Linked DNA regions of Homo sapiens: region 2 is linked to region 1. The links come from fine-mapping of genetic effects on gene expression. Tissue or cell type: esophagus muscle. Region 1 holds a variant in brackets; the other region holds the start of a gene. All regions are shown on one strand. Distances are between the middles of the regions.

The links. PIP is the estimated chance that this variant, and not a neighbour inherited with it, causes the effect.
Region 2: it holds the start of HOMER1, and the variant in region 1 is fine-mapped to the expression of HOMER1 in esophagus muscle (GTEx, PIP 0.95).

Annotation. Positions count from the first base shown.
Region 1 is chr5:79,087,548-79,092,696 of GRCh38, reverse strand. BHMT2 (betaine--homocysteine S-methyltransferase 2) reads right to left here. Exons shown (of 8, transcript NM_017614.5): 8 at 2,628-4,204. The coding sequence ends at 4,123. Among named protein-coding and RNA genes, the nearest start is that of BHMT2, 20 kb to the right of the region's middle. The variant C/G (reference allele first, on the strand shown) is at 2,835.
Region 2 is chr5:79,511,129-79,516,277 of GRCh38, reverse strand. It overlaps HOMER1 (homer scaffold protein 1), which reads left to right and starts at 2,144. Exons shown (of 9, transcript NM_004272.5): 1 at 2,144-3,508. The coding sequence starts at 3,504. RefSeq lists enhancers at 1,422-1,611, 1,320-1,867 and a silencer at 1,862-2,571.

The DNA.
Region 1 (5,149 bases):
CGTCACTTTGCTGTGCATTTACCTAATTTTGAATGTGTTTATCTTTTTCTATATTTAATGGATTAAGGTAATTATTTCCTAATTTATAGATTAAGGAAACTATCCCTTAGCTTATCAAATGTATGCAAATATGTGTGGCAGGATATTAGTACTCAGATTGTGTTATTCTGTTCCCCCCACCCTTTTTTCCCAGCACTGGAAAGATATAAGGCAAATATTTCCCCACCTCTAATAAGGATGCCATTGAGAAAAGAGGACTTCACTTTCCTATTGCTTTTGGAGTGATGTCCTATTATAATAACATATGAAGAAAAGAAAGTTTTTCTGAAAACCTTACATAGTTGTGGGGATTGAGGGAGGTGGGGAGGAGGCAGTACAAAGTGCACGTGGGGGCGCACAGGAGCTGACCATCAATCCCCAGAAGTTGCCCAACAAGGGAGAGGACCTGCTTCTTGGGAAGGAAAGAGTCAAGTGGGGCTGGCAGGTACCATGTTACGGGATAACATATGAATGCTCAGAAACTGTCCGAGCTCTGTGTCAGTGCCTGTAGATCCAACGACCTGGCCCTCACATCATCTCCACGAGGTGCACTGTGCTTCCTGGGGCACCTGATCCACAACCTCATATCCTACACCTGAAACAGTGACCATCAACATGGCTGATGGTGTTGATGCTAGTGCTGACCCCAAGGCTTTGCTTGGTCCCAGCTGGGTACACTGTCCTCTCATAATACCTGTAAGCCCAAGAAAATGGAGTGGAGTGGGGTTCTGAATGCCAATCACATAGGCGAGCCCCCCTCACAACATCTGTTTGGGTTCGGGGAGGTTTGAACAAAAGCAGCTCAAGACCCCTTTACTGGAAGAGTGGTTTCTGACCTCTGTTACACAGTTTTCCTATTTGCCTTTGCCTTTGTTTAGAGTATTTTTGTGTGAGTGTTCATACATTTAAAGTTTTTATATGGTAAAATTTATCTTTTTTTCTTTCTTAATTTTTATTTTTATTTTATTTTATTTTATTATTTTTTTTTGAGACAAGGTCTTGCTCTGTCACCCGGGCTGGAGTGCAGTGGTGTGATCACAGCTCACTGCAGCTTCGACCTCCCGGGCTCAAGCTTCAGCCTCTTGACTAGCTGAGACTATAGGCATGCACCACCATGCCCAGCTAATTTTTGTATTTTTTTGTAGAGACAGAGTTTTGCCATGTTACCCAGGCTGGTCTCAAACTCCTATACAGTTTAGCACACCTAAACTGTACAGTAACTAGATAAAAGCCTTTGTTTGTGCTGGTGCAGACCCAAGGAAGGGATTCGGTGTGGAGACATCTCTCCCTCCTAATGTACCTTCTTCACTCTTGCTATTCTCATGATGTCCTGCACTGCCCTCTCCACAAAATCTATGAAGCAAGCAGGAGATATTGTGTAAACGGTCCTCCCCTGGAATGTGGTGTTCAGGACTACATACTAAAAATAAGCAGAGGCTTTGGTACCAGAGTGTTCCCAGAAGACAGTCACCATGAGGATGAGGGGATTGGAAACCAAGTCAACATAATTATATTATACTATATAATGTGCAATGAATGCCTGTTATACGACATGCACTGTTTCTAAGAAACTTATCTCATTTAATCCTCATAGCACCCTAATAAGGATGGTTCTATTTTACCCTCATTTTACAGATGAGGAAATTAAGGCATAAAGCTTAAGTAACTGTACAGTGTCACACAGGTAGATTTGACAAAGCACATCTTAGCCTATGCCTTTTAGTTGAAGGAAATGAGGACAAGTAAGTATAGGAAAGCCATACAGCTATCTTTAAATTTCAAAGAGTTATATGGAAGAAATTATAAATTTGCACTTTAGGTGCTCCAAGTCTGCAGGTGAGGGTCATTAATAAATAGATTTCTAGTTAATACATGGAATAACTTTCCAGAGAATGAAGTGTTTCTTAAAAAGGAGTAAGTGATCTCGAGAGGTAGTGAGTTACTATTTAAGGGATTCAAACAGGGACTGGATGGTCCTGATGAAGATGCTGGCGAGGATATTCAGGTATTTAATTGGTGGTTTGGATTAGTCACCCTTAAGGACCCCAAAGGCCTTGAGATAATAGTAAATGATTCACTTTCTAATTTCCAGCAGGGTGGGGTTGTGTATTATGGGTAAAGTGGCTATATCAAATAAATTCCAGGTTGTCAACATTACAGAAACAGTCATGGCAGGTTTGAAGAGTTAATTCATAATAAGGAAAGTTGATAAAAAATACTTTGAATCCAGCGACAGAAAAATTTGGATAGATTTTTGACAAAAAGCAGCAGCTGTGTGCATGACAGATGCCGTGTAGTGCAGTAGCTAAGGGCATGGATTCTAGAGCCAGCCCCATGGGTTCAAATCCAAATTTACTAATTTCACATTTACTAGTTGTGTGACCTCAGGCAAGTTACCTAGCCTCCTTAAACTTCAGTTTCCTTACCTGTAAACTACTGTGTTAAACACTATCTAATTTTGAATCCCTGTTGGGGGGTATATGTAGATGAGATCATCTTTAGAACAAAGACTGCGACATAGTGAGTAATAAATATTTGCTAGTATTATTCCAAAGAATGTTCATGACATTTTCGACATTCAAACACTATAAAAGGTAAATCATTTTTATTGCCACAAATTGATAAATTGTTGTGAAAAAAAGAGAAACTGGCACACATGAAATAACACAAACATAAGAAGATATAAGACCAAAATAGATTTGAATTATGTCTCCCAGGCTGGATTGCAGTGGGGCGATCTCAGCTCACTGCAACCTCTGCCTCCCAGGTTCAAGCAATTCTCATGCCTCAGCCTC[C/G]AAGTAGCTGGGATTACAGGCATGCACCACCATGCCTGGATAATTTTTGTATTTTATTTAGTAGAGATGGGGTTTTGCCATGTTGGCCAGGCTGGCCTTGAACTCTTGACCCAAGTGATCTGCCCGCCCTGGCCTCCCAAAGTGCTGGGATTATAGGTGTCAGCCTGTGCCCCTGGCCTAAACTCTGACTTTTGAAAAGGTTTTCTAAAACTTTATTTTTAAACAATCAACAATAAGTATTTCACTGTGCACCTATTAGTATGTCTAACACAATGCTAAGTAAGGGGAATTATGAGAAGATTATAAGCTTATCACGTGATCTTGTCTTTAAATAGTTTATAACCTAGCTACCTATGATTATGAAGACACATTTTAAAAATTCTAGGACCTAATATCTTTTTTTTTTTTTTTTGAGATGGAGTCTCACTCTGTCACCCAGGCTGAAGTGCAATGGCCTGATCTCGGCTCACTGCAAGCTCCGCCTCCTGGGTTCAAGCGATTCTCCTGCCTCAGCCTCCCGAGTAGCTGGGATTACAGGCACCCGCCATCATGCCCGGCTAATTTTTGTATTTTGGTAGAGACAGGGTTTCACCATGTTGGTCAGGCTGGTCTTGAACTGCTGACCTCAGGTGATCCGCCCGCCTCGGCCTCCCAAAGTGCTGGGATTGCAGGTGTGAGTCACTTCGCCTGGCCAGACCTAATATCTTTAAGTAAAAATCATCTTTGAAAGTAATCACTTTGGATAGTTAAACATTTATTTCAATAATGCTACCATTGCTCAAAACATTCTTTACATCTTTTCTTTGGGATTGCCTTTGGAGTCATTGTATAAATCATTAAAAAAAGCAGACTCATTGCTTTAGTTTAGTGTTGCTCTATCATCCTCAAGTATCTAGCTTAGTCACTTGAATTATTCACTAGCTTTGGGTCTCAGTGACTTCTGATTATTTTAAAGTGTCAAATTCACCCTCAAAGACAAGTTTGGCTATTCTTCATGATCTTCAAAGGAATGCACCACAGCATGATTGGACAGTAAGTTCTTGGAGAACAAGGTGCCTCTCTCGCTTCTCTTTGCATCTCTGGTAGAGTCTGTTGCAGTGCTTAACCACAGCAGGAGCTCAATATGCACACACTTGTGGGCTGGAAGGGAAGGGGCTGCAGCACCTCAGCTGCTCAGCAGCTGGAGATAGCAGGGCATGGTGAGGATGAAGGTGAGGAACGGTTCCAGGTCAGGCTTGAGGGCAACTTTTTCCTGTTCGATTATTTCAGGGTTTTCTTTCACTACTCCTTAGAAGTCTGGCTTTGACAGCGAAGGACAGAAAGGTCTGCCTGAAGCTGGCAGCAGATTCTCCCAATACTCCCTTCGAGCCCTGTGTTTCAATATATACATAATTAATTAATTAAAAGTCTTACCTATAAGTCCAATATGTCATATATGTATATATGTATGTATATGTATATAACCACACACACACACACACACACACACACACACACACACACAGTCAAAACTTGGTGGATAATCAGGCTAAAGCAGAACTTTTGTTTTAACATACAGACGGAAAACTGTGTCCATATCCATTAATGCCAGGGGCCTTTCTTACATTTCAATAACAATCATTAGGTTTCATACCACCTTTCAGAAAAAGACAACGTATTTCAATTTCATATACTTTTTATTTTGAGACAGGGTCTTGCTCTGTTGCCCAGGCTGGAGTGCAGTGGCACAATCTTGGCTCACTGCAGCCTAGACCTCCTGGATTCAAGCAATCCTCCTGCCTCAGCCCCCCAGGTAGCTGGGACTACTGGCGTGCACCACCACACCAGGCTAATTTTTGTATTTTTAGTAGAGACAGGGTCTCCCCATGTTGCCCAGGCTAGTCTCAAACTCCTGAGCTCCAGTGATCCGTCTGCCTTGGCCTCCCAAAGTACTGGGATTACAGGTGTAAGCCACCATGCCCAGCCTTACATTTCACATACTTTTATGAATTATATTTATTCTGAAATTTCTAACAGAGTCCTTCTAACTCTATCAATATTTTAATGTAATGAGAAGAATACGAGAACAGTTTTTAATGTAATGAGTCAAAGTATAATTCTCCAAAAAGTAACTAAGAAAATAATACAAATTACTTTACCAATATTTGTTTCTTGTTGTTAGACAAAGGAAGAAGAGTACAAAGGTCCCTGGTCGTAGCCCTTTCTGATGAATATATTTTTATTGTTTTTTCCACTTTACTTACAAAACAATGAATAAATCAATATTTTTGGATGATGAGATGTCAGAAATCTAGTGTTTATTGTGTAATCATAAA
Region 2 (5,149 bases), 420 kb before region 1:
AGGCGTGGCGGCGCGCGCCTACAATCCCAACTACTTAGGAGGCCGAGGCACGTGAATTGCTTGAACCTGGGAGGCAGAGGTTGCAGTGAGCCGAGATCGCGCCACTGCACTCCAGCCTGGGCAACAGAGCGAGACTCAGTCTCAAAAAAAAGACTTAATATTTCAAACTTCAAGCAAGATCATAATTTTATAATGTGAAGATGACCAGAGTGTTTGAATCAGTTACAAATGGGTCTTTTTTGTTGTTGGTGGTGTTCTTTAATCTTGGACTCCTAACTTGAGCAAGAAAATGTAAATACAGAAAGCTGCAAAACCAATGTTCCTTAATTAGGAACCATGTGAGTAGTTTAACATTACAAACAGTTTCTAAAAGTCACACGTGGTATACATTCTAACGAGTTTTAGCTTCTTTTATTTAAACTGCGTTGATATTGATCTATAACTTTCCTAATAATCACTTCATAGGTTGGTAATCCTATGTTTTGGATTTTCCAGGTCACTTCAGATTCAAATATTTTTTCCTAACGTCAAATGGTGTGTCTAGATTTTGGTCTGGAAAACAGGGTCACTAAATTTGTAGACTAACTTGAAACAGTATTGGCCTTTGGCAATACGCAGCAATTCTATTTCTTGGCCATGCTTATCAAGTTAAGTAAAATAAAATCAAAGTTCACTATATGATTTACCTAATTAAAAAATTGTTTTAACCTAATTACTTTAAAATAATTTAAAAACTCTGTAGTAATTTACAATGTAAAAAGCACTCATAATATGGTGTTTATAGACACACATAGCTAGTAAACCTATAGACAGCTACTCACCCTTGCCATACAGAAAATGCAAAACACACTTAAGAGATATTGTAATTACATATTATGTGGTCAAAACTAAAGAAGACGAAAATATGCTTGTGTTAATGAAAAAGGATTTGGTGCTCTTTCTTATTTTTAATTTTTAAATTTTAATTTAAATTCCACAGACTGAAACCCATATACTTTTTCTCTTTCTTGTTTTACTGGCTGGAGCCAAGTGTCATGGAACTCATATTCTTGATGAAGAGAAACTGAGAGGACACACTGGCATTTGCTATACGTGAACTAAGATTGACTCATTTTCCTATGTCAAAACTGCTATTTTGCAAATAAAATTACTATCCTTTATAACATTATTTCGTTTGCTTATTGCTCTGCTCTTTATTCTTTCGTGTTTCAGGTAACCACTAACAAAAAGTTTAAAAGTCGACTATGTCCAGAATGGCACTCTATAATTGAAAATTTAGGTGATTTTTCCGAAGTCCTGTTGGAAGCACATCTACCAGCAGTGTGATCAGGCTCTCCCTCCCACATTTCCCTGCTAGTCAGGACAAGAGAAGCCCGGGGGTGCTGCTGCAATAGCGGTGGGAGTGGGAGATAGGCTATTACCCGCTTGACACTGCACTTTTGCTACGAATGATTCACTCAGGTTTGGCACATTTGTTGCAAGGAAATCTCCTCCTCCCGCCGCTTCCTTGTTCGAGCTCCTCTCGGGCTGTCTCCTGTGCTTTGGCCTTTAAGGAGAAGTGAGAGCAGGTGGGCACACAGGAGCTCGCCGAGTCCTCCTCCCCCTGCTCCTTCCCTAATTTAGCAGTACTTCCGGCCGCGTGACATCATCCCCCGCACCTCGGTGACGTGAGCTGCGGGTGACGTGTGTGCGGAGAGAAGCGCGCTGACGTTGCTATTTAAAGGTCCTCCTGCGGGGAGGATGGAGACACAGCGCGAGCACCTGGTGTGGGGCGCGGAGGAGGCTGTGGCGGTCGGGAGCGGGGCCAAGAGCCAGAGGAGGAGCAGAGCGCACGGCCAGCCAGCCGCCAGCCTCTAGGGGAGGGGGGAAAAGAAGGACGAACGGACTGAGGGCCTGCCGCCGGCCCAGCTCCCCACGAGGGCCGCTCGGCCCCCCACCATCAGCCTCTCCGCCGCCTTGCGGCTGCTGCTTTCTCCCGCGGCCCGCTGCTCGCAAGGCCCGTCGGGCTCCCGGGACCAGTCCGCGCCCCAGCCCCCGGCCGCGGCTCCGCGGCGGCCACCGCCTCCCGTCCCTTCCCGCGAGCAGAGGGAGGGACCGCCCTCGCTCCCCGTTCTCTCCGCCCCCTTCCCGCCCCCCGCAGCCCACTCTGCCGCCGCGCTAGCTTCACGCCGGCGGCGCTGACCGGGAAAGCAGCACCCTCTTCTCTGCCAGCCGGCCGGCCGGCGGAGGCGGAGGCAGCGGCAGGCTTCAGGCCGCCGGGGCTGGCGCTGCTCTGCCCGGCGGTAGCCGGAGGCGGGCGCTGATGGAAGTGTGAAGAGGCGGCGGCGGGGCCCGGGGAATGTGAGGCGGCGCGTGGCGGCGGCGCGGAGCGTGAGAGACGAGGAGTAGGGGTGGGGGCGCTGGAGCGGCGGCTGCGCTTCGGCTTCGAGCCCAGCTCTCCTGGCCCCAACGCGGGCTTAGCCTCCCGCCTTGGCTCGGGCAGGCGCCCGTCGACCCTTCGGCCCCTTTCGCCCGCCCTGGAGCTGGGGGCAGGGTGCCAGTGGAAGCGTGGGGCTTGGCTCTGTGATTCATTCATTCTCCGCCGACGGGAGCCTCAGACCCGCTGTGCTCTGAAGAGAGGAGGGAAGAGGGGGCAGCCGCGAATGAAGGGCCGGGCACCAGCCGGGCTCCATTGTGCTCGGCGGCGGGGGGCGGGAAGGGGCTGAGGGAGGTGGGATCGGGTCCCCTCCTCCAGCTCTCCGGCGTGCGCTGCGCCCCCAGCCTGCTGCCAGCCTGGAAATGGCTCCGTTTATTCTCTTCGGGAGAATGAATCGATCCTGCCTAGCCTTCTCTTCGTCCTCCCCACCTCTTCTCTGCTCCGAGTCTTAGGAGGAGAAACATTTAAAAAGACAGATTCCAATGTGGAGTGCCGTGCAGGTTGCGAGCTGCCGGGTTTGCACTTCGAGGAGATTTTCCTGTGTAGTTTTTTTCCTAATGTGAGCGCAGGGAAGCCGTGGCATTACTGCTTTTGGGATTTTTATTCACGTGCACGTCGCGTTTGGTTGCTCGCTCCACCCCCGGAGACCTGGTGTGGTGGAGAAATTTGAACCCGCAGCCTTAGCTCCGAAAAGGCCGAGTTACCTGGCTCTCCCTGAGTGTCGAGGAGGACATGAGTGAAATGACCAGCGAACTCATTTTTTATAGGACTCGGTGAAGCCGGATTCTGCATTTCCCTACTTGTAGACTCATTTTGTGGAATAGAGTTGATCGCTGTCTCCTCCGCAAAGCATTTTAACTCGAATAAGCAAATGCCGCCTCTGTTTGAACGTTTTGGTATTTACAAGAGAGAAATCATTTTACCTAAGAGAACTAATTGAATTGGCAGCATCCTTGAAATACCTCCGGACAAGGATCTGGGGGTGGGGGTGGAAAAGCAACTGCGAAATAGCAGACGGAGAAATTCCTTTGGAAGTTATTCCGTAGCATAAGAGCTGAAACTTCAGAGCAAGTTTTCATTGGGCAAAATGGGGTAAGGATTTTTGTGCTTAACACAGCTTCGAATCTGTTTATGTATGTGTATTATTGAGCGGTGGTGGTGATTGTGTTTTGTGTTTTCAAACAAACTTGCCACCTTGCTAAGCTGGTCATACTTTAAAGAAATAGGCATGCTAACCTTTTAGGTTATTTTTGCATTTTTGTAGAGCGGTACCAGAGGTCATAATTTAAAAACACATATATCGTTTGTAACTTGAATATGGATTTGTGAGTAATGTTTACAAAGACAACGCATTCTACACTTTACTGGTCAGACTGCTGCATCAGTTTGTAATCAAAATCACATTATTTTAGCTTTTGCTGACGGTTATCTTTCAAAGAGAAGTACTGCATTCTCTCAGTACTTTTAGATAATCAGTTGCACAAAGGAACGATTTTAATGAGTGGTTAGACAACAGTCCTTGAAAGTGATCCAGAGTAAATTGTTGCCCTCACCGTGCCCTCTGTCTTGTCCTTGAATATTCAAAGCTAAAATGTATAGAATTGATTTACTGGGGCGTTAAAACGAAAATCTGAAATTCAGTCTTACTGATGCGGTCACCACGGTACGGGTGCATTTCGTAGGAAAAAGCTTTTTGTTTAAGGAACTTGTTCACTCCTTTTGTTTTTCGCTTTTAAGCTCAGCCCTTCAGTTTGAGTTAACAGTATCAGATCTACACCTTCCTTCGGACCCAGAGCCAACTGAGAGTGCATTTTCCAGTCTTTTATTAACTCTTCACACTGTGGGTTGATGAAATGCTAGTGACACTTCCTAATTTAAGCTGGAAACCCATAATATATTAATGGAGCAATCTGATTTCATTGACAGGTTGTCACTGCTTTTTGGCAGAAGAACTTCCAGAATTTTCTCTTTTTGTGTGTGTGTGGTTGAACAAACACATCTGAAGTGTAGTTGAGGGGCATGTTTTAAAGAATGGACTCTGCAATTCATCGTGATGGTTTAGGTGTGTACACACGCTTGAAACTTTCTGAGGAAAGTTCTTGAATAGTACCTTCCTTTTGGAGTTAGAATTTGAAGTTTAACATGCATAACTTTGAAAATTTAGAGCATGTTGTAGGAGACGTTCCTCAGAAATTAATGACAAAGTTATAATGGTTTTAAAAACTTGAATGACAAGTGATGAGAATATATATAACTTGCATGATTTGGGGGTACCGCTAAGAGTAATTAAAATACCTCATTCTATTTCTAGCGCTGCTATTAGTAGCTTAGTGATCTGAGGCAAATTACTTGACCTCTGTGGACTCTATTTCTTACCTGTAAAATGAACGATTTAGAGATGACTTAAAGATTTCTCCAAACTGTAAAAAACGAATTGCTTTCTTTTTATTCTCCTCCTCATTTTAATGATCACTAGTTGGTTTCTGCAAGTCGATCTTTCTGATGGAGACCTTTTTCACTCTAAGCAGTTTAAGCGCTTAACGCTGAAAAATAATGGCATTTGAAAAATGTTTTGGATGAATTGCACCAATTTTAAATGAGAAAAATACTGAAAAATACTACTGTTCAAAACCTTAGAAATATGGCTTCCCTTGAGCATCTGCAGCTCTGTTTAAAACATGTTGGAGGAAAAAAAATCAAGCAGCAGTTTTTCATGTTGATGGCTGCATTTTG